Linked DNA regions of Homo sapiens: regions 1 and 3 are each linked to region 2. Evidence: fine-mapped expression QTL. A gene starts in region 2. Each other region holds a variant in brackets. All regions are shown on one strand. Distances are between the middles of the regions. Region 1 overlaps PDE8B (phosphodiesterase 8B). Region 2 holds the start of WDR41 (WD repeat domain 41). Region 3 has its middle 63 kb from the start of WDR41.

Region 1 (8,553 bases), 60 kb after region 2:
TTTAGCCACAGAATGTCCAAGCAACTCCTGCTTTTGCATTTCATTGCTCTTTTCTTTCAGTTGATCTCATAAAGGCATATACTTTTTCTTATATCTGTAGGTGTTTGTCAGATCTGAACATGGAATGGGATAGGCTATAGTATGTGCAGTTAGGGTCTCCCTTTCCGGATATATGATTTGAGGAAACAAGGAATGCATTGCTTTTAAGAATGGTCTTAATCACCATTATTTAGGAGCTGGAGATAGCTGACAGTAAGGGCAGTGTGAATAATGTTGACTATATGACAACAGTAAACAGAGGATGCATGAAGGGTTGTGGTTATATGTGTATACAGTTAAAGCCTTAACAGAATCGAATTCCAGGGGCCTTTATCAAATTCATGAACAGAGTCCTGTTTCTCCTGCCTTTGAAGGATAATAGTTTGTTAGCTTTAATGAAACCTATGCCTTGATTTTCATTGTGCAAATATGAAAGTTTTAGTTGAAAATTATGAAATGCGTAAGCTTTTAACATGTAGAAATCCAGATACATTAATATTTGCTGCAGGCATCATTGCCTGTAGTGAAGGAATAAGATCAGTTGAGGTAACAGATTAGCTGTGAGAACTAATAACAGTGTAATCAGGGCCCTAAGGAATTTCTTAAATTGTTCTTCCCTGTTTCATAGCCAAAGAACAAAAAATTTCTTTTCATTTGAAAGGGCATTCATGCTTAGGAGGAGCAGCGGCAGCATCCTTGTTAGTGAGCATTTCCTGTATTTCAGGCACTGTGCTAAACACTGGCTGCTGGAGTTTACAGAGAGAGATGAAAACAGTCCTTGCCCTCATGGATCTTACCCTTGAGTGGAGAGAAGGGGTATAGACCTAATAGGCTGTTACCCTAGGCTGCATTTGATGGACCCAAGTAAGCAGCAGTGACTCAGAAGAAACATTTCTTGCTGAATCTTGTAAATGGTTAGAGGATATAGGACTTGACACTTGAGCTGAACCTTGAAGTTTAGTAGGATGAGTATATAGCCTTGTCATCATAAGCTCCTTGATGTTGGGGTACAGTGTCATAGTTATCTTTGCTTTCCTCTAACAAGTAGCTCAGTTTTTAACTTTGTGTTTATGGTTGGGAGGTGAGCATGGACTGTGGTAGGCAGAAGGGCAAAGATAGCATTTACGTGGTGGCAAGGAGCACCTTGGCTAGGCCGGAGCGCTGGGTTCCTGTGAACAGACACTAGTAGGGGATAAAGCCTGGGAACGTGGTTTGGGGTCAGATTATGGATGTCCTTGAATGTAAGGCTGAGGAGTTTGGACTTTATTTTTTAAATAGTAGGAACTCATTAAAAAGGTTTTTAGATGGTAGGGAAAACCCCATGTAAAAGACATTCAAAATGTGTTTGAATGTGGCACATTTCTCATTCTATAAAACAGTGTCAGCTTCTTAGGAATTTTCCTGAGTGAAAGTGTTGAGACCTGAACACTTTTAAAAAGCATCTCCAGCTTCGTTGATAAAATCTAGGCTATCTTTGCAGTGTCACCTGAATTTCCTCATTTCTTTTTTTTTCTTTGAGACAGCATCTCACTCTGTTGCCCAGGCTGGAGTGCAGTCTTGGGTCACTGTACTCTCCGCCTCCCAGGTTTAAGCAATTCTCCTGCCTCAGTCTCCCAAGTAGCTGGGATTACAGGTGCCCGCCACCACGCCCAGCTAATTTTTGTACTTTTAGTAGAGATGGGGTGTCACCATGTTGGCCAGGCTGGTCCTCATTTCTATTTTCATCCTTGCTCTACTGGCGCAACCCCTCTACCTGTGTACTGAATTTTGTGTTTTCCAGTTTCCGAAGGAATTCTGCTCCCATGTTTCCTCCCTTCACTCCTGCATCCTCAGCTGAGTCTTATCCTGTGGTCTTCAGAAATGTATATGTCATTTCAGAGAAAACTCTTGTTTTTTTTCCCGAGAGGGAGTTTTGCTCTTGTTGCCCAGGTTGGAGTACAATGGCGCAATCTCCACTCACTGCAACCTCTACCTCCTGGGTTCAAGCGATTCTCTTTCCTCGGCCTCCCGAGTAGCTGGGATTACAGATACCCAGCTAATTTTTAGTATAGACAGGGTTTCACCATGTTTGGCCAGGCTGGCCTTAAACTCCTGACCTCAGGCAGTCCACCCACCTCAGCCTCCCGAAGTGCTGAGATTACAGGTGTGAGCCACCACGCCCGGCCCTGTTTCTCTTTTATTTCACCCTTTCCTTCGAGGACCTCATCCTTTTCATTGATTCACTTTTCTGATACAACTCTTCACCCCATAGTATTCATGCTGCCTTTTGTCAACACTCTGTTTTCCTATTCTTAGCTTCCAGCCTATTCCTTCACTGGGCAAGCCCCTTCCCCTTACTTGGGGCATTTTCTCCCTTTGAAGCTTTTTCTGAATTTCTGTGACATGTCATAGTCTATACTGCATTATTTAGTACCTGATTACATAATCTCTCATTGGTACCTTTATTGTTTCAATTATGATTTGCTTTTCAGAATCTTCTTGAGGGTAGGGACCATAAACGTAGTGCTGACACTTAACACCTATGGATTGAGTATATCTACTTTTATAGAGAGCTGAAGCCAGTGTTTATCTTGGGAAATTTAGAATTCAGACATTTTTTCCATAGCCATTATACAGTATAAGTAATGGTTAAGTAAAACCAATACTTGAAAAATCAGATGATGAAAAAATCTGGAAGAACTATGAGAATTCATGTACTTTACAAAAATAGCTATTCTGTAGTTGAACAATATTAACAAAATTCTGATTAAAATATTAGATATTATTTGTATGTGACTTACCAATACTGAAAAATGAAATGAAGTTCTACACCCAGATCCAAAGGAGTCTTTAAGGCACATATCTCACACGCACATGTGTTAATGTGGTATTAGACACTTCTCTGCTTTTCGGGGTCCCTATAATCAGTTTTAATTTTCTTTACAGATGTTTCTATACTTTGAAGATCATGGACTAGTGACGTGCTCCGCTGATCATCTCATTATTTTGTGGAAAAATGGAGAGCGAGAATCTGGATTGCGCAGTTTAAGATTATTTCAAAAATTAGAGGAGAATGGTGACTTATACCTTGCTGTCTAGTTTAAGGAATTAAAAATACACATGCATGAACCTTGAACATCAAATATCGGGTACTACTCTGAAAACCATTAATATATTGATCACTTAAATTGGTAATTTTTTTTGTCAGTCCATAAAATTCTACATGTTTAAATTTTTTGTGGACCTACCAACCAGGAACATGTTGCTTCTCAGGTCCTAGTATATCCTCCAAAGAATATACCACAAGTTTTTCCATTTGACTTTGAGCTGCTGTTGAAGTGGTGAGTGCTGTGTTTTGAGCTTATTTTGAACCTAGATCCTTGTGAAAGGTACAAATAGAGGTAATAGTTAAGTTATGGCATTTATTAGAAGTTTTATTATTTGGCTTCCTTTAGAATTATTGTGAAGTTTAAAAATAGCCTTTCTCCTGCAAATTTTCCTAGTCTTTAGTAACTGTTAGTGTTCTATATAGCACAAACTTGAATCTCTCAGCCAAAAAAGGGAACATATATACTGTTTAAGTATGGCAAGTTTTCTTTGGTACCAATTTGTTTAGATAATTTTAAAAATGTTTTTTAGTTCTAGCTACTAAAACCTGTATGAACTCAAATGGATAGGCATCTTGTGAGGGTGTGTTTTTCCCAGTGTGAATTGGCTTGAAGAGCCATGGGCTAAATGGGTACTAGAACAACAACTGCCCCTCATGTACGCCAAGGATGAGCTCTAGATCATTTGAGAGGCACAGTGTTTCCGGAGTCAGGGACTGCAGCTGAGCGCAACTGCCCCATCTGACCACTGACTCAAATACGAACTGCTTGAGACAGACTTCTTTTATGTAGTTCTTTGCAGTGTCCATTGAGACACTATAACCAGCCTTGTAACAATATGTTTTCTCCTTTTGGTGCTAAAAAAT[G/A]AAAATATTAGAAAGTAGTCTACACATTAAAGATTGAAATTCTTAAACTACTGATGAAGAAAGGGCAACGTGACAGATGTTAGCAGACTGACCCTTCTTACAGAAAACCTACAGATTTATTTGTTCATTATACAAATATACTACAAATATACCCTAAAGGGAATCTCCATAAGTTCTTTTACTAGTTTTAGCTTTGACAGTTGCTTCCACAACTACCTACAAAGACTGGAAGAGTTAAGGTCATCTGAGTAGACCAGTGGCATAATGTTACAAATGAGGAAACTGAGGCCCAGTGCAGTAAGGCCTTGCAATTAAATCTGTAGTGCCCAGTATCACCAAGCAGCTCTAAAAACAGGAACTGAAGACTGAATGAGAAAAGGCTTATATGACTACTTTAAATCCAAACAACATTGAGTCATGAAAAGTTCTATGGAGAAATATTAAAACTTAAGCTACCTCAATTACAGAAGACTTTCTCCCATTATTCACGTGCTTTTTCCTTTAGAAATTCTGCATTGGCCCATACATTTGTAAAGTTGTTTTCTGAAGTTGTATGACACAAGGGAGCCATAGACTTAACTGTTTTACTTCCTAGCCTGTTCTAGGCTAGTATTTTGTGATAGTAATCTATTCAAATGGAGTGGTAGAAATCACATGAATTTTGGAAGCAAATGGTACCGTAAGTACCACAGCAAATTCCTTCTGGTCATTATACAGGCGTACCTCAGAGATACTACAGGTTAGGTTTCAGACCACATCAAAAAAGCAACTATTGCAAATAGAGTGAGTCACATCTAGTTTTTGGTTTCCCAGTGCCTATAAAACTTGTGTTTATACTACAGTCTTAAATTTCTAAAAAATGTACATACCTTAAGAATACTTTATTGCTAAAAAATGCTAACAATCATCTGAGCCTTCAGCGAGTCATAATCTTTTTGCTGGTGGAGGGTCTTGATACTGCTGGCTGTTGACTAAGGTGGTTACTGAAGGTTGGGGTGGCTGTGGCAGTTCCTTAAAATAAGATAGCGATGAAGTTTTCCAAATCAATTGACTTCCTTTCACAAATGAGATCTCTGTAACATGTAATACTATTTAATAGCATTTTACCCACAGTAGAACTTCTTTCAAAATTTAGAGTCTGTCATCTCAAATCCTGATGCTCCTTTATGAACTAAGTTTATAGAATATTCTAAATCCTTTGTTGTCATTTCAACTATGTTTACAGCATCTTCACTGTGGAAATGACTGTCTCCAGAAACCACTTTCTATACACATTCTTAAGCAACTTCTCATCTATTAAAGTTTGATCATGAGATTACAGCAATTCATTCACATCTTCAGGCTCCACTTCTTCCAGACTCCTTTTAATGCTGGAATTTTGACCGCCTCCCATGAATCAGAATGTTCTTAGTGGCATCTAGAATGCTAAATGCTTCCCAGAAGGTTTTCAATTGACTTTGCCCAGACTCTTCAGAGGAATCACTAGTTAGGGCAGCTACAGCCTTATTAAATGTATTTCTTAAATAAATAAGACTTAAAAGTCAAAGTGACTCCTTGACCCATGGACTGCAGCATAGATGTTGTGGTAGCTGGCACGAAGACAACATGAACCTCCTTGTACATCTCCATCAGAACTCTTAGGTGACCAGGTAACATTGTAATGGGCAGTAATATTTGGAAAGAAATTTGAGCAGGTCTCAACCATAGGCTTAAATATTCAATAAACCATGCTATAAACAGATATGCTGTCATCTAGGCTTTGTTATTCCACTTCTAGAGCATAGGCAGAGTAGATTTAACATAATTCTTAAGGGCCTTAAGATTTTTGGACTGGTAAATAAACTCTGACTTCAACTTAAAGGCACCAACTACACTCGCTGGCATTGAACTTCTTCTCCCCAGCTATGAAGTCCTAGATGACATCTCTTCTAATAGAAGACCATTTCATCTTCACAAACTCAGTTGTTTAGTGTAGTCGCCTTCAGTGATCTTAGCTAGATCATCTGGACAACTTCCTGCTGTTGTTGTCCCTTGCACTCTGACGTTAATGGGGATAGTTTCATGAACCAACCTCTGCTTGCTTCCAGCTTTTCTTCTGTAGCATCCTCACCTCTCAGTCTTCGAAGAAAGAATTGAAGAATTAATTAGGCTTTGGCTTAAGGGAATGTTGTGGCTTGTTTAATCTATATAGACCACTCAGACTTTCTCCATCTCAGCAGTAAGGCTGTTTCACTTTCTTGTTTGCATGTTCACTGGAGTTAACACTTTCAAGAACTCTTCCTTTGCATAACTTGGCTAACTGGTGTAAGAGGCATGGCTTTCACCTGCCTGGGCTTTCAACATGCCTTCTTCACTAAGCTTTATTATCTGTAGCTTTTGATTTAAAGTGAGAGACATGTGACTCTTTTACTTGCACATTTACAGGCTACTGTAGGTTATTAATTGGCTTAATTTCGATATTGTTGTGTCTCAGGGAATAGGGAGGTCTAAGAAGAGGGAGAGACTGGAAACCGCTAGTTGGTGGAACAGTTAGAATATACACAAGATTTATCAATTAAGTTCACTGTCTTATACGGGCATGGTTTGCAGTACCCTAAAACAATTACAGTAGTAACAAAGATCACTGATCACAGACCACCATGACAGATACAAGAATAAAAACATTTGAAATACTCTAAGAGTTACCAAAATGTGACACTTACACAAAGTGAGCCCATGCTGGGAAAATGCCCCGATAGACTTGCTCTATGCAGGGTGGCCACAAGCCCTCAATTTGTAGAAAAGGCAGTATCTTTGAAGCACAATGAAGCAGAATGCAATAAAATGAGGTATACTTGTATTCTAATTTTCTGCCATGAAAAACTGTCTAGAGGGCAGTCTCCAACCCTAGGGACTAGATTGCTTTTGTTTTCATGCATGCCCTAAGGTCACAGAGATGGGGGATAACAGTATGATGGGAGATTCTGGTAGGGACTCAAACCTGATGGTGTTCAGTAGTTGCAGGTAGACTGCTGCTAAAAGTTGGACTTTCAATTTAGAATAAAATAATGGGTCAATGTATATTATGTACATTTTCTCCATTTCCTGAGTTTAGCTTTCAACAGTTAAGATACTTGCAACAGCAGAAGTAACACTACATAGTGTTACAGTGTACAAATCCCTTGTCATTTTTATTTTAAAATATATTTATTACCTCAGTCTCTGGCTATATTCACATAGCGCAAGGGCACAAGATCATCCCTTCTGTTTCTCTCTCTAAAGCTGAGTAGGTTCTGAGTGAACTGACAGGCTTGTTTTTTTTTTGCCCAGAATGCTAACCAGTCCTGACATGGAGGGCAAGTAAATTTAAAAATCTTAAATTAGAAATAAAGAATGATCTTAGGAAATTATAGGGTCATTCTGGTCCAGCAGTGTTTTATAACTGGCTTCCTTCTCTTACTAGTCACGGAAATTATTAGAGAGTGTTGCATTTTCCTAATACGGCCCTCCTCAGCACATGACATTTAAGTAAACAACTCTGTGTAAGAGGCAGTTATAATAGTTTATATAATATAAACTATCTGATACACATATCATCTGAAAGCCTGTATTTCTAACAAGTTGACTATGTGGAAGAATAGACTAGTTCGCAGGCCAGAAGATTATACCGTAGATTACACTGGTAAAGAGCAGAAATTGTTGACGCTTTAGTACCTAGCTGTCTTAAAGCATTTTTAAACATTTGCACATTACTAATAAAAAGTTTGAAGTTAACAAGAAATTTGACATAAAACTGAGTAAGCTGTAAATATTTCATATAGAAGATGTCTGACACCTGATAAATGTTACTTACCAAATAGAACTGAAAGTGAGATGATCAGAAAAAGATTGTCCTTGCCTCAAGCAAGCTTCTGAAGCCTAGGCAAGTTAGCTAGGTCCTTAATATGGGATTCTGGCATCCTGATTTTAATGTGCTCTGAAAACAAAGTGTGTGACTCATGAAATAAAGGACACTAAACCCCAAATTTGAAATTATGAAAACTTTAGGCCAAAGAGGTAAAATAAAAACAGCTGTTGGGAGTGAAAAATGGCTGTAGGAATTTAGTTACAAGTACTTCACAAAAACATTTTCATCACATTTACATAATATAGCATTACAATACAAAGCTGGCTGCTGTCCTGACCAAGCAAGTTCTCTTATCATCTAACAAAAATAATTTAGATACATTTCTTTGCATGGAATTGTCATATTTTTCCATTTTTGGTACAAAACATAGAAAAAAACATTGGCACATTATGTAGTGATAAGTCATTTTTTCCCCATGTACAAGTTCCAAGTATTCTGCATTCCAATTTGTATTGGAAAAAAGTAATTACTGATTCAATTAATTCAGTCTCTGTTTGTTTATACCTTTTAAAAATGCAGCATGAAGTACAGAGAAAGAAAAATGAAGTTTGTTTACGGAGTCTAATATTTATAATACATAGGAAGGATCAGCTGGTAAAAGAGAAAGGAAAATCTCGAGTCTGACTTTATGTAGATCACAGGGAGTTGTGAAAAGAGCAGTATAAAAATATGCACT
Region 2 (8,000 bases):
TAGCTCTGGCAAGAACTTCCAATACAGTGTTGAAGAGCAGTGGTCAAAGAGGACATCTTTCTTTTGTTTCTCATCTTAGGGGAGAAGCTTTCAGTCTTTCACCATCGAATGTGATGTTAACCATGGGTTTTTCATAATTACTTTTTATCCTATTGAGGAATTTCCCCTCTATTTCTGGTTTTCTGAGAGTTTTGTGATAAAAGGGTGTTGGATTTTGTAAAATGCCTTTCTGCATCAGTTGAGATTATCTTGTGGTTATCTTCCTTTGTTTTATTAATGTGATGTATTACATTGGTTGATTTTCTTATACTGAACCACTCTTCCATTCCCGGAATAAATCTTACTTGGTCATAGTAAATAATACTTGTTAATATGCTGTTGGATTTAATGTGATAATATTATGTCAAAGATTTTTTTCATCTGTAGTCATAAGGGATATTGGCCTATAATTTTCTCTTTTTGTGATTTTTTTTCTGGTTTTGGTATCAGGGTAATGCTGGCCTTGTATAAGGAGTTAAAAAGTGTTTCCTCCTCTTCACTTTTTGGAAGAATTTGAGAAAGATTTGTGTTAATTCTTCTTTAAATGTTTGGTAGATTCATCAGTAAAGCCATCTGGTCCAGGACTTCACTTTTTTGGGAGGTTTTTGAATACTGTTTCAATCTCTTTACTTGCTATAGGTCTGTTAATATTTTCCATTTCTTTCTGAGTCAATTTAAATAATTTGTGTATTTCAAGGAATTTATTCATATCTTTTAGGTTATCTAATTTGTGTTCGATTGTTCATAGTGGTCGCATAGTCCCTTTTCTCTCTGCAAAGTCAGTAGTAATGTCTCCACTTTCATTTTCAATTTTAGTTATTTGCATTTTCTCTTTTTTTCTTTGTCAGTCCAGCTAAAGGTTTTTAAATTTTTTTCATCTTTGCAAAAGACCAACTTTTGGTTTCATTGATTTGCTCTATTTTTTCTATTCTCTATTTTGTTTATCTCTGCTCTAATTCTTATTATTTCCTTCCTCCTACTAGTTTTGGGTTTCATTTGCTCTTCTACTTCAAGTTCCTATGGTATAAAGTCAGGTTATTGATTTTAGATCTTCTTTTTTAATGTAGACATTTATACCTATAAATTTCCCTTTAAGTACTGCTTTTACCGCATCCCGTAAGTTTTGTCGTGTTGTGTTTTTGTCTCTAGGTATTTTATAATTTCTTTTGTGCTGCTTTTTCTTGTGACTCATTGGTTGTTTGAGTGTTTTGCTTAATTTCAACACATTTGTGAATTTTCCAGTTTTACTTCTGTCACTGATTCCTGTTGTGGTCAGAGAAGATACTTTGTGTGATATCTATCTTTTAAAATTGATTGAGACTTATTTTGTGGCCTAACATATGGTCTATCTAAGAGAATGTCTTACATGTGCTTGAGATGAATGTTTATGCTGATGTTGTTGGGTAGTGTGTTCTTTATATGTTAGATGTAATTAGTTTATTGTGTTGTTTATGTCCTCTATTTCTTTACCTTGTCTGGTTGTTCTATCTATTATTGAAAGTGGACAGATGAAGTCTGCTACCATTGTTGTAGAACTATATCTTTCTTCAATTCTGTTAAGTTTTGCTTCATAAATTTTGAGGGTCTATTATTAGGTGTGTAAATATTTGTAATTGTTTTATCTTCTTGCTATATTGACTATTTTATTAATATATAACATAATGTTTCTGTCTTTGAAAACTTTTTTGATTTAAAGTCTATTTTGTCAGCTGTTAGTACAGCCACTCCAGTTCTCTTTTGGTTACTATTTGCATGGAATATCTTTTTCTATTCTTTCCCTTTTGATCTATTTGTGTCTTTGATCTAAAGTCAGTCTTTCATAGACAGCATATAGTTGGATTCTAGAGTTTGGTTTTTTTTTGTCAATCTGCCTTTTCTTTGGACAGTTTAATCTATTTATATTTAAAGTAATTACTGATAAAGAGGAATTTCTATTTTTCTATTTGTTTTCTATATGCCTTATAGTTTTTTTGTACCTCATTTTCTCTATTACTGCCATCTTTTGTATTTAGCTTATTTTTTGTAGTAAATGTTTTGATTCCCTGATCATTTCCATTTATGTATATTTTACAGGTATTTTTGTGTTTACCATGAGAATTACATTTAACATCCTAACGTTATAACAATCTCATTTTAATTTATACCAACGTAACTTCAATAGCATACAAAGACTCTGCTCCTATATTGCTCCACCCCCACCCTTTCTATTGATGCCACAAATTACATCTTTATACATTGTGTGCCCAATAATATACTAATCTTGTAAAAAATTCTTTCTTAGCTGTCCTAAGAGGAACCAAGGGAGGAAGTGTTCAACCCTGGACCAGTGCTTTAAAGCATCAGCAGAATGTCCCTTACATCAGAGTAATGTGGCATTGGGCAAACCCTAAAGAGCATGGGGCAAACCCTAAAGAATGTGGATAATCAGAAGAATAAAATGTAGGCTATTTGGGCAACCACATTGTCTCACGTGAAGATATTCCTTCCAGAACTGAACTCCTGATGTCTCTGAGTTTTGTTTTACTTAAAGATAAGTCCCTCTTTCCCAGGGGATAGTCTCTGTTTTGGTCTGTCTTCAACTGTATGCAGACTGCAATTTGGGGCTAGCACACAGAAGGCAACATGCTCCTGATCCTTGGGAGTGTGTTCTTGCCGAGTGCACTCAAAAGGAATACAAAGATGAATTATAGGAGATCCGAGTTCCAGAGGGACTGTAAGTTTGTGTAGCTGCTCACAACCAACTTAGCTTAAAGTGGGATGTATGGCTCTCTCTTATTGGTGACTGGGACATTATGCCTTGTCCCTCCAGAGCAGCATTTTATGTGATTCCTTTCTGCTTCTCTAGTGCATCTGTGTCCAATACATGTTTGCTGAATTAATGCATTAGTTGGGACATTTGTAGATTCCCTACAACAATTTACTGCTAGGAGGATTATTTGAACCTAATACATATGCAAATATATATATTTATACTTTTGCAAACATGATATGTATAAGTAGTTCCTAGACCAGTGATTTTCAGACCTTGCTACTCATCAGAATCACCTGAGGAGCCTTCCCAAAACCCCGATTCCTACGTCCCAACCACAAAGATTATTTTAATGAGTCTGAGGTGGAAGCCAGGAATCTACATTTTCAAAAGCTACCCAGGTAATTCTGATATGCAGTCAGCATAGATAACCACAGCCCTTTGACTACCTAAGAAAATGTAGTAGTCAAAAAAAGGTATATGAACTGCCTTCTATTCTTTAGGGAGATTCTATGTTAATATAGCATACGGTCAAGAACACTACCAATGTAGCCACTTCCTAGCTGTTATCTTTAGACAAATTACCTAATCATTCAGAGCTTTAGTTTCTTGATGTGTAAAATAGAGGATATAGGTTTACCATGAGGATTTATGTAAAGCCTTAGCACAGTAGCTGTACTATAGCACACAGTAAATGTTGGCCGGATTTATTCGGCTGTACACATGAGCCACTGGATTTGTCTGGATGCAGAAGTCTACTGCGGTACACCTTCTTCAGCAAGCTCTTGGGAAAGCAGGGGAGATTTCCTGGTACCCTAGGAAGTGGAGGATACTAAAGCCATGTCACAGGGAGGGGCATTATTCTTCGTGCGCGCTTGCTCGCCGGGGTCGGGTTGCTGCTCCGCGCGCGTCCACCAGGGGCCGCTCGAGCTACCTAAGCTCCGTGCGCTACCCGGCGGCGCTCCCGCGCGTGCTCACTCGGAGCAGCGCGCGCCCCGCAATCGCCGCAGCCGCCCCCGCCGTCGGCCGCCGCACCCCAAGCGACTGCCCAAACTAAGCCTCCGTGGCTGGGTACGGGAGCGCTTTGGGGACAAAAATTCTCCCTCAACTGTGGTCTGCATTCCTTCGGCCCGTGGGCTGATCTGGGGCGGGAAGTATTAGCGTCTCAGTTGCGCTGCAGCCGGGGAGGAAGGAGGAGGCCGAGCCTGGGGCGGAGTTTGGGCTGACTGGGGCTGGACCGGGCAAGACGCCGCCGCTGCCCGGATGTTGCGATGGCTGATCGGGGGAGGCCGAGAACCGCAGGGACTGGCCGAGGTAAACCCCGGGTGGGTCTGCTCTGCGTCCGTCGAGCTTGCTGGAGGGGCGGCTTCGTTCCGGTTCGGCCTTCCTGGGTTCCGACCGCGGGGACCCGGGCGGAGGCGGGGCTGGCTGCTGAGCTCGTGCCACGCGCTGTTCTCACGACGGTGGGGGCGGAGGGCGCGGGAGCCGGAGCTCCTCAGACCCGGCGGGACCCCAGGCGCACCCTGGAGCTGCAGACCCCCGGCCCCGTCCCACGGCTAGCTGAATCGTGAGATCCTGGCTCAGGGACGCTCAGCTGGTCAGCAGTCCTATTGGGACCTGTGACAACTTAGGGCTTCTGGCTACCGAAACTATCTTCATTTCCACTTAAAAAGTATACGATTTAGCTAGAAACGAACGAGTTGTGACCGCAGCTTTCCACTTTTGGTTTATTTGAATTGGTGTCTCTTCCTGGCGTCTACTGATACTTGGTCAGGGAATATAAAATTAATTTACTTATCCAACAACCGAAAAAGGATATAATTATTTTTAAAAAGTAATCTGCTTCAAGGTCAAGAACATGATTTTCTAATTAACTGCTGTTTTTGGTTTCATAGTCACACTTTCTTCATGGGCCCGAATAATTGAATAGACCGTGTGTAATGAAATTTACATTTGAAATGTGAATAAAATAATTTTTGCAGTCTTGGAAATTTTGAGGTCCCAAATTTATTTCGTATGCCACACAAGAACTTTCATGCGCGTCCGTGTGAAGAGACCACCAAACAGGCTTTGTGTGAGCAATAAAAGCTTTTAATCACCTGGGTGCAGGCGGGCTGAGTCCGAAAAGAGAGTCAGCGAAGGGAGATAGGGGTGGGGCCGTTTTATAGGATTTGGGTAGGTAAAGGAAAATTACAGTCAAAGGGGAGTTGTTCTCTGGCGGGCAGGAGTGGGGCAAGGTGCTCAGGGGAGCTTTTTGAGCCAGGATGAGCCAGGAAAAGGACTTTTACAAGGTAATGTCATCACTTAAGGCGAGGACCGGCCATTTTCACTTTTGTGGTGGAATGTCATCAGTTAAGGCGGGGCAGGGCATTTTCACTTCTTTTGTGATTCTTCAGTTATTTCAGGCCATCTGGGCGTATATGTGCAAGTCACCGGGGATGCGATGGCTTAGCTTGGGCTCAGAGGCCTGACAAGAACAGAATTTGTGAATTGCATTTTATTTCTCATAAGAAGTATTTGTTTAGATTGTTAAAAGTAAGAAATTGGATTGTTGAGAGTAGGCAGTCTTCTCAATTTTAACTTCCGCATGTCTTTGCAGTTGACGGTATTGTCTGTTTTTAAAAATTTCTTATTTCAGATTAATCCTAAATCCTTGAGATTGTGGATTATTGAATAGCCATATATGGTATATACGACATTTTGGATAATTCTGTTTTAACCTGGTTCTTTGGTTAATCATGTTATTTGCTTAACCAGGTCTCCCATTCCTGGCAAGTTTTCATTGGAGGAGAAGCAGTTTATATAGTTTTCAAATTTCTCACCACAATCTCTTCTAGAAGGAAGACAGAATAAATACAAAATCAATGCTTTGTGGTGGTGGTTTTTTTTTTGGAAAACATTTATGCATGTTTTAAATTTATATATTTCTTCATATAAATCTAATTGAGTTGTATAACTGCTGTGAATTTGTACATTATCGGAACCTATGATTGTCCCTAATTTATGCAATAACTTTGTATCCAGGCTTCTCGTTTAAGCAGTGGTTCTCAACTGGGGTGATTTTTGCCCCGCAGGAGACATTTGGCAATGTCTGGAGACATTTTTGATTGTCATGCCTTGCAGAGGGGCAGTTCTATTGGCATCTAATGTGTATAGACCAGGGATGCTGCTCAATGTCCTGTAATGCACAGGACAGTTCTCAACAACAAAGAATTATCTGGGCTGGGCGCGGTGGCTTACTCCTGTAATCCCAGCACTTTGGGAGGCCGAGGCGGGCGAATCACTTGAGGTCAGGAATTCAAGACCAGTCTCGCCAACGTGGTGAAAACCTGTCTCTACTAAAAATACAAAAATTAGTTGGGCGTGTGGTGCGAAAAAAAAAAATTCTCTAGCCCAAAATGTCAGCATCAAGTTTGAGAAATCCAGAGTTGATTTCATGCCTTCATTTATTCATTTAGCAAGCATGTATTGAGTGCTTGTAATGGATGAGGCACTGTTTCACTATTTTATGTCTTTGATTTGCAGTTTTGTTTCTGCCACATTTTAACTGAGAAACATGCATTCTAAAATGTTGAGTTGGATTGGCCCATTACTTTTTTTAAAGTGAGGTTTAATAGGATACAATTTACATAAAATAAAATTCACCCTTTTTGTAAATTTATTGTGATTTGAAAATACTAAAATTCATGATTCGAATTTGTGGTAGGAGAAGTGTTTTATGTGGAACTGGCAGTTATTTAGTTGATAAAAGAAGAAATAATATTTAGTAGTAGAACATGATACCTTAAGGCTTTTAAAATCTTGTGTTCTCAGATGTATACCATGGAGTTATATTCCAATATGGTCTTACAAATCATTTTATCTCTTTTTTTGTCTTTTGTTTTTTGCTTTTTTTTTTTTTTCAATACAAGAAATCTCCTTTACAGACAATAGGTGAAGAACAAACCCAGAATCCCTACACTGAACTGCTAGTACTGAAGGCTCATCATGATATTGTACGATTTCTGGTACAGTTAGATGACTACAGGTAAGAAGCTATAGTGGTCTAATTGACTATTGTTTGGGAAGAGGTTTTAGGGAATTTTATGTTAAACACCTTTAAAATTAATACATCTTTTCTAAAAATTTAAAAACTGTGATCATTAGTAACATTTAGTAGAAATTGAAATTGGCCTCTGCATCTCGATGAAATATGTATCTAGAGTCTTTTTTGCCCAAAGTCAGGGTGTCGTGTCTGGTGATTTGAGGGTTATGTTTGTTTGTTTGCATTCTCAGAAATATTCTTAATAGTTTAAAAGAAGTGTATGACTTTAAAATTTGGGTAGGAGTTATAACAGTATATTAAGGAGAACTTGTATTTGAGAAACAAATATGCTAAGTGTTTAAGTATCAGGTACCTACCAGGAATGTTTTATTTTTAGTGGAAGGTAAGTTTAATCCAAAGTTTTTGTTATTGATGAAACCACTTGAAAATGTACATTATTCTGTACTTCCTTGCTAACATGTATAATAATTATGTTTAATATATTTGCAAATAGAGGTGAAGGTGTATAGGCTTTAGGACTGTAGACTATTACTGATATGTATATATGTATATTAAGCCCATATTCAACTGTATATCTTTTATAGCATGTTTCACCATAATAATTACATAATTAGTGGTGTAATTCAATATTTTCGTCCTCTCTAAAATGTAAGCTTCATGAGAATGAGGCTATGTTTTTCTTATTCACCATGTTTTCTTAGTACCTAGTACAGTGCCTTACATGTAGCAGATAATTCATAGATGGTGGCTGAGTGAATGAATGACTCTCCAGACTACTAAGCATCCACATTGAATGCCGTCCTAATCCCCCAACCTCATTTCTGTTGTCTCTACTAGTTTTTCCACTTTCATCTCTAATTTTGTCTTTTGCCTTTGCTGTTTTTTTTCACTCCATGGATGAGTGTTACTGTAATTATTCCTAACTCTGACCACCACTTCTGCTGTCTATTAACCTTGTCTTTTCTCTGCTTTTTTTTTTTTAATTTAATTTAATTTTTAAAATAGAGACAGGGTCTCACTATGTTGCCCAGGCTGGTGGGCAACTCCTGGGCTCAAGCTGTCTTCCCACCTTGGCCTCCCAAAGTGTTGGGATTACAGGCATCAGCCACCGTGCTCAGCCTTCTCTCTGCTCTTTAAATGTTACTGATATTTAGTTGCTTTACCATG
Region 3 (8,000 bases), 63 kb before region 2:
TCTCTATATAGCTGGTTGTTAACTATTTACCAGCGTACCACTGTCTTTAATACACACAGAGCAACTCAATACATGTGTCTGTTATTTATTCTTGAGCTCTCCTAAAAGAGTAATAACAGCTTTCATAGACCCTTTTACAAGAAGTGAAATGTATATTTGATTCCCTAAGGAATCTTAGCCCACAATTTCTTGTTAAGCTTTAAAAATTAAGGTTTTTTTCCCTTAGTGTAATAGATAATTTGGAAAATACAGAAAAAAAATATTTTTTCAATGACTTTATTATTTTGAAAGGATGAAAGTAATCACATATTCATAATTTTCTAAACAATTCATGTCTTGCATATTGGTTTATCAGACAACTTATTGCTGAGTTTAAGAGACTGCCAAACAATGCTAAGATTAGAAAGTGCTGGAAAATTAGTTTGTGGAATGAACTCACTGCAATAACATAAATAGTAGAAACATGTCAAGGACCATGTTTGTTAGAAATAAACTTATTTCTCTATGCAGAAGACTTATTAATCATATCTCAGGATGTTTAATAGCGTAAACAAATGGAAAACTTCAGCTTGTGATCCAAGGTCGTTTTCAAATTGGAAATGACCTCAGCCTGCCCCAAGAGGGCTAATGATGTAAAAATAAGTAGGGCCCAGTCCTCTGGGGAATTCGGTGCAGGTCAGCGAGGCTCTTTTGGTGAATGCGGCAATCTGCTCTGCCTCCATAGGCCTTTGTGTAGCCAGACTCCCTGGGAAAGGTGGGCTGTCTGCTGTTGCCTGGCACATATGTAAGAATATTCTTTTTCAATTTCCTTTTCTATTTTTCTTAGATTTTTACTCATGCACAAGGAAAAGCTCATAAGACACTAAAAATGTCACAATGGTAAATTTTCCTTTCCTAAACAGAAAGAGAATTCAAGAGCAATGATTTTTCTTTATACAAATTGTTTTTTAAAGTTAAATATTAATTTAAAATATATTAACATTTGAAGAATCGCATTTTAACGATTACCTACATACCTACTCCTGTTTTGTTTTTTTTTTTTTTTTTTTTTTAAAAAGAACATTTGAAGTTCCCTATGTGTTCATTTCTTCCCTCCCTACTTAAAGGTAATCATTACACTGACGTGGGGTTTTTATTTGCTTGTTCTTACTCACTGCATTGCCACATTTTTTCTTCTAAACAATATGTTGTTTAATTTTGCATGTTTTTGGCCTTTATATAAAGATAATCATACCGTATACATTCTTTTGTAACTTCATTGCTTCTACTATAAGTCATTACTTTTAACTCTCACCTAATAGTCCATTGTATGAATATGCCACAGTTTATTCATTCTACTGTTGGTAAACATTTGGGCTGTTTTCATTGTTCTCTATTATGAATAGTGTCACTATACTCTGAGTATTACTACACATGTATTTTGGTGTATATGTGCAAGAGTTTCTGTAGGTACGTGCCTAGGAGTGGAATTGCATGCCTTCAAATCCACTAAGCAATTAATGCCAGACTGCTTTTTCAAAGCGACTATACTGATTCCTACTGCCATGAGAAGTGTACAAGTGTTCTAGTGGCTCACGCTAACATTTAATATTGTCAGAATTTTTAATTTTTGCAAGCTTTACAGATGTGAAATGTCATCTTACTGTGAGCATCTTTTATCTTTTTATACTTTTGGTTACTTCTGCCACCTCTTTGTGAAATGCTTGCTCAAGTCTTCTGTCCATTCTCTATTGGATTGTGTGTGTTTCTCTGGTGACTTATAGTAGGTCTTTGTATATTCTGGGTACAATTTTGGGGGCTCATTTTTAGGGTGTAACAAATCACTTCTCCCAGAGTGTGGTTTACTTATTTATTCTCTTAATGGTTTTTTGTTTTGTTTTGCTTTTAAACAGAAGTTTTTAACTTTAATATACTAGAGTTAAATTTATCACTTTTTCTTTATGGTTAGTACTTTCTGTGCTATGTCTAGTAAATCTTTCACTACCTTGAGATCATAAAGATATTCTTCAATTTTGTCTTTTAAAAGTTTCATACTTTTGCTTTTAATATAACTCCTAATCCACAAGGAATTTTTTGTTTATGTGTGTAAAAGGGATCTGTAATAAATAATCTAATTCCATTTTTGATGTTTGACTACCAACAGCTTTCAGGCTCCACCCCTCCCCCTTTCCCTCTTGCCCAGCATCTGGCAAAGCTGATTAGAAACCCCAGGTGCCCCCTCCCTTGGTGCCAAGGAGAAGTTCAAATCATCCCTCATACTGGCCCTATCACTGACCACATTAAAAATCAAAGACCCTTTTCTCTCCCTCCCTCAAGCCATTTAGAACTGGCTTGGATGCCTGTCCTGTTCTGACCAGAAAGCCTCATTGTGTGTAATAAACTTTTAAAATACCTTCTTGTTGTAAATGTGGTATCAACAATCTTGATATCTGAACCAGTTTTGGATGGGGGCATTGAGCTCACCTTTCATGGGGCAACCACAAAAATAAGACCCAATTTCACTTTTTTCCCCACATGAATAACCAGCTGTCTTAGTGATATTAAATTTAAAACTCCACAAACAATACAGAAATTAGCTGGGTGTGGTGGCGCGTGCCTGTAATCCCAGCTACTTGGGGGCTACACGTAGGAGAATTGCTTGAACCCAGGAGGCAGAGGTTGCAATGAGCCGACATCATGCCACTGCACTCTGGCCTGCGCAGTAGAGCGAGACTCCACCTCAAAACAAACAAACAGTCAGTCAGTCGGGTGCAACGGCTCACGCCTGTAATCCCAGCGCTTTGGGAGGCCAAGGTGGGTGGATTACTTGAGGTCAGGAGTTCTAGACCAGCCTAGCCAACATGGTGAAACCCCATGTCTACTAAAAATACAAAAATTAGCTGGGCGTGGTGGCATGGGCCTATAATCCCAGCTATTTCGGCAGGCTGAGGCAGGAGAATTGCTTGAACCCGGGAGTCGGAGGTTGCAGCGGGCCGAGATCGCACCACTGCACTTCAGCCTGGCAACAGAGAGAGACTCCATCTCAAAAAAAAAAAAAAAAAAAAAAAAAAAGTCCATCTTTTCCCCACCACCTTTGTCAAAAATCAAACCTGTTTCTGGGTTCTGGGTTCTCTGTTTTCAACTGTTGGTTATTTTTGCTATTTCTGTGCAAATGCCACTGTGTTAATTGCTCCAGCTTTATAAAACACCTGATATCTGGTAAGGCAAGTCTCTTCCTTCTGTTTTTCTTCTTCAGTAGTGTTTAATTCTTGGCTCTTTTCTTTCCATATGAATTTTAGAATCAGCTTGTTAGTTTCCACAAAGAAACCTTGTTAGGATTTTGATTGAAATAGTATTGAATCTTTACATCTTTATGAATTTGTCTTCCAATCCATGAGGATAAGATTTATACTTCATTTATTTAGTCTTTTTATCTCTTTCAATAAAATTTTATAATTTCTTCATAAGGATCTTACCCATTGTTTGTTAGATTCATTTCTAGGCACTTTATATTTTCGGATGCTGTTGTAATTAATGTCTTTTTTAAAGATAATTACAGGCTAGGCGGGGTGGCTCACACCTGTAATCCCAGCACTTTGGGAGGCTGAGGCAGGAGGATCTCTTGAGCTCAGGAGTTCAGGACCAGCCTGGACAACATAGCGAGACCTTGCCTCTGCTAAAAACCAAAACAATTAGCTGGGTGTGGTGGTGTGCACCTGTAGTCCCAGCTTCTTGGGAGACTGAGGTGGGAGGCTCACTTGAGCCAAGGAAGTTGAGGCTGCAGTGAGCCGTGATCATGCCACTGCCCTTCAGCCTGTGTGACAAAGTGATACCCTGTCTTAATAAATAAATGAATTAAATAAAAGATAATTGTAGAGTAATATGCAGTTTAAGATACAACGCAGAAAGATCCTTTGTACACTTTGCCCAGTTTCCTCCAACGGTAACATTTTTGAAAATAATAGCATAGTATTACAACCAGAAAATTAATACAATTCACTGATTTTATTTAGATTTTTCCAATTTGAATTGTACGAGTGTGTGTGTTAAGTTCTATATACTTGTATTTTTTTTTTTTTTTGAAACAGGGTCTTGTTGTCTCACCCAAGCTGGAATGCAGTGGTACAATCAG[G/A]TACAGCCTCCACCTTCTGGGATCAATGAATCCTCCCACCTCAGCTTCTTGAGTAGCTGGGGCTACAGGTGTATGCCACTGTGCCCAGTTAATTTTTGTATATTTTGTAGGTTGGTCTCGAATTCCTGGGCTCAAGTGATCCACCCACCTCAGCCTCCCAAAGTGCTGGGATTGCAGGCATGAGCCACCCCACCCGGCCTCTAGGCACTTTTATCAGCTATGTAGATTCTTGTATCCACTACCACTGTTCAAGATACTAAACAGTTCCAGCACAACAAGGATCCTTCCTGTTGCTCTTTATAACTACACCACTGTCTTAGTCCATTTGTGTTGCTATAACAAAATACTATAAACTCATAAACAACAGAAATTATACTAAATAAGTTATAAATTATACTATATATTATAAATTATAAAAAATTTATATTATATAATAATAACAAATTTATTTCTGATAGTTCTGGAGGCTGGGAAGTCCGAGATCAATACATCAGCAGATTCAGTTTCTGGAGAGGGCCTGTCTCCTAGAAAGGTACTTTGTAGTTGTGTCCTCACATGGTGGGAAGGGTGAGCTAGCTCTCTGGGATCTCTTCTACAAGAGCACTAATCCTATTCACGAGGGCTCTACCATTATGACCTAATCACCTCCCAAAGGTCCCACTTTCTAATACCATCTCACTGGTGATTAGATTTTAACGTAAGAATTTCAGGGGGACAGAAACATTCAGACCAGAACAACTACTTCCCTACCTCCCCTCACCAATCTCTACCATCTGGCAACCACTAATCGATCCTCCATTTCTAAAATTTGGCACTCCCCAAATTTTATATGCATGGAATAATGTAGTGTGTAACTTTTGGGGATTATAAAACACTATATCATTGTACTCAGCAGAATTCCCTAGAGACATCCAAGTCATATGTATCAACCGACTATTTATTTTTATTGCTTAGTAGAATTCCATGTTGTGCATATACCACAATTTCTTTAACCATCTGTTGACTTCCAGTTTTTAGCAATAACAAATAAAGCTGCTATAACCATTAATTATTTGGGTTTTTATGTTAAAATAACTTTCATTCCTCTGGCATAAATGTCCAGAAGTGCAATTATTGGGTTGTATGGTAGTTGCAAGTTTAACATTTTAAACAACTGTTAAACTCTTTTCCAGAGTGGCTTACCATTTTACATTCCCACCAGTAATGTATGAGTGAACCAGTTTCTCTGCATCCTTGCCAGCATTTGGTGGTGTTATTTTTTAAAATCTTAGTCATGTTGATATGTGTGTAGTGGTATCTCATTGTAGTTTTAATTTAAAGTTTCCTAACAGCTTATGATATTGAATATCTTTTCATGTGCTTATTTTTATCATCTTTGGTAAATGTCTGTTTATGTCTTTTGTTCATTTAATAGATTTTTTTAATGTTGAGTTTTGAGAGTTCTTTACATATTCTAGAATTTAAAATGTGTAAGTTCTTTGCTAGATATTTGGTGCTATGATTTGAAAGATGGCATTCCCTCCAAAATTCATGTGTTGAAACTTAATCCCCATTATGATGGTATTGAGAGGTGGGGTCTTTTGGGGAAGTGATTAAATCAGGGGGATTCTGCTCTCATGAATGAATTGGTGCCTAGCTGGAGGGAACTAGCTTAGGCCCTTTTTGCCCTTTACATCCCTTCAGCTATTTGAGAACACAGCATTTGTCCCCTCAAGAGGATGCAGCAACAGGGCTCCATCTTGGTTGAAAGTGGAGATGGGGGCCTCACCAGATACCAAATGCTGGTGATTAAATCTTGGACTTCCCATCCTCCAGAGCTGTGAAAAATAAATGTCTGTTCTTTATAAATTACCCAGTTTGAGGTATTTTGTTATAGCAGCAAAAAAGGACTAAGGCATATGACTTGCAAATATTTTCTCCTGAGTGTGTAGTTTTCCTTTTCATCCTCTTTATATGGCTTTCACAGAACAAACATTTCTAATTTCAGGGAGGTCCAATTCATCAGTTTTTCTTTTTATGGATCATGCAGTTGGTGTCAAGTCTGGCAACTACTGGCTTAGCGCCAGATCCTGACAACTTTCTTCCATGTGTTTTGCTGAAAGTCTTATAGGTTTGTTTTACATTTAAGCCTGTGATCCAATTTAAGCTCATTTTTTATATAAAGCATGAAATTTAGATCTAGGGTTTTTTTCCCCATATGGATATGCAATTGTTCCAGCATCATTTGTTGAAAAGGTTATTCCTCCTCCTTTAAATTGGTTTTGCACCTTTGTCAAGTCAGTGTGGCAGACTGTGTGAATCTATTTCTGGGTATCCTGTGCTGCTCCGTTGATTCATGTGTCTACCCCTCTGCCCACACCACACTCTCTTGATTACAGTAATTATATAGCCAGGCTTAATATGGGTAGAGTAGTTTCTCCCATTTCTTTGTCTTTCTTCTCTATCAAGATTGCTCTAGCTATTCAGGGCCTGTGCCTTTTCATATATATTTTAGCATAAGCTTGCCTCGGTCTATGAAAAAAATATTGCTGGGATTTTGATAGGAGTTACACTAAACTATAGACCAATTTGGGGAGAATTGACAGCATTACTAAACTGAGTCTTCCAGTTCATAAACATGATATATCTCTTCATTTATTTAAGTCTTCTTTGACTTTCACAAAATCAGCATTTTGTAATTTGTAGCATATAGATCTTGCACATGTTAAGTAAATGCATAAGTATTTCATTTTCCTTGGAGTTATTGTAAATTGCCCTGTGTTTTTAATGTCAGCTTCCGCATGTTCACTGTTACTATAATTGATTTTTATGTGTCTTTATATTTATTTAAATTACTAATATATTTAGATTTATTTTGACAATTTTATTTAGTGGTTTGTATTTGCCCTACCTTTTCTATGGTCTTTCTTGTCCTCCCCTGCATCAATTGCATTTTTTTTCTCATTCAATTTTTCCCCTACTAGTTAGGAGATTTTATTTTATTTTATTTTATTTTATTTTATTTTATTTTATTTTATTTTATTTTATTTTATTTTATTTTATTTTATTTTATTTTTTGAGACAGAGTCTTGCTCTGTTGCCCAGGCTGGAGTGCAGTGGCACGATCTCGGCTCGCTGCAACCTCCGCCTCCCTAGTTCAAGCGATTCTCATGCCTCTAGCCTCCCAAGTAGCTGGGATTACAGGCTCGTGCCACCACACCCAGTTAGTTTTTGTATTTTTAGTAGAGAAGGGGTTTCACCATGTTGGCCAGGCTGGTCTCAAACTCCTGACCTCAGGTGATCCACCCACCTCGGCCTCCCAAAGTGCTGGTACTACAGTCAACAGCCACCTCGCCCAGGCTTTATTTTTTTATTTTTTGAGTCAGAGTCTCACTCTGTCACCCAGGCTGGAGTGCAGTGGTGCAATCTCAGCTCACTTCAGCCTCTACCTCCTGGGTTCAAGCAATTCTCATTCCTCAGCCTCCCAAGTAGCTGGGATTACAGGTGAGCACCACCACACCAGGCTAATTCTTGTGTTTTTAGTAGCGACAGGGTTTCGCTATGTTGGCCGGGCTGGCCTCAAACTCCTGACCTCAGGTGATCTTCCTGCCTCAGCCTCCCAAAGTGCTGGGATTACAGGCATGAGCCACCACACCCAGCTAGTAAGGAAATTTTATGCTATATTATTTTTACTTTGTTAGTCATTCTAAAATTAGCTTTTGAATATCATTTATCAAAATCTAACATGAATTAATATTTTTGCCCCCTTCTTAAACATACAAAATCCTTAGGACATTTTATTTTATTTTATTCTTTCTTTCTGAAATTTTATTTTATAATTTCAGATTTTATTTTCAATTCACAGGGTACTGTGCAGGATTGTTACGTGAGTACATAGCATGATGCTGAG

Evidence for each region.
Region 1: its variant is fine-mapped to the expression of WDR41 in whole blood (TOPMed, PIP 0.95). The same link has a PIP of 0.9 or more in sun-exposed skin.
Region 3: its variant is fine-mapped to the expression of WDR41 in whole blood (INTERVAL, PIP 0.93).

The regions. Positions count from the first base shown.
Region 1 is chr5:77,427,699-77,436,251 of GRCh38, reverse strand. It overlaps PDE8B (phosphodiesterase 8B), which reads right to left. Exons shown (of 22, transcript NM_003719.5): 22 at 7,996-8,553. WDR41 (WD repeat domain 41) reads left to right here. Exons shown (of 13, transcript NM_018268.4): 13 at 2,965-5,319. The coding sequence ends at 3,117. Among named protein-coding and RNA genes, the nearest start is that of WDR41, 60 kb to the left of the region's middle. The variant G/A (reference allele first, on the strand shown) is at 3,992.
Region 2 is chr5:77,488,272-77,496,271 of GRCh38, reverse strand. WDR41 (WD repeat domain 41) reads left to right here and starts at 3,956. Exons shown (of 13, transcript NM_018268.4): 1 at 3,956-4,102; 2 at 6,700-6,815. The coding sequence starts at 4,052. RefSeq lists silencers at 3,651-3,790, 4,231-4,450 and an enhancer at 3,571-4,494.
Region 3 is chr5:77,551,147-77,559,146 of GRCh38, reverse strand. It overlaps a transcript of WDR41 not described here. Among named protein-coding and RNA genes, the nearest start is that of WDR41, 63 kb to the right of the region's middle. The variant G/A (reference allele first, on the strand shown) is at 4,112.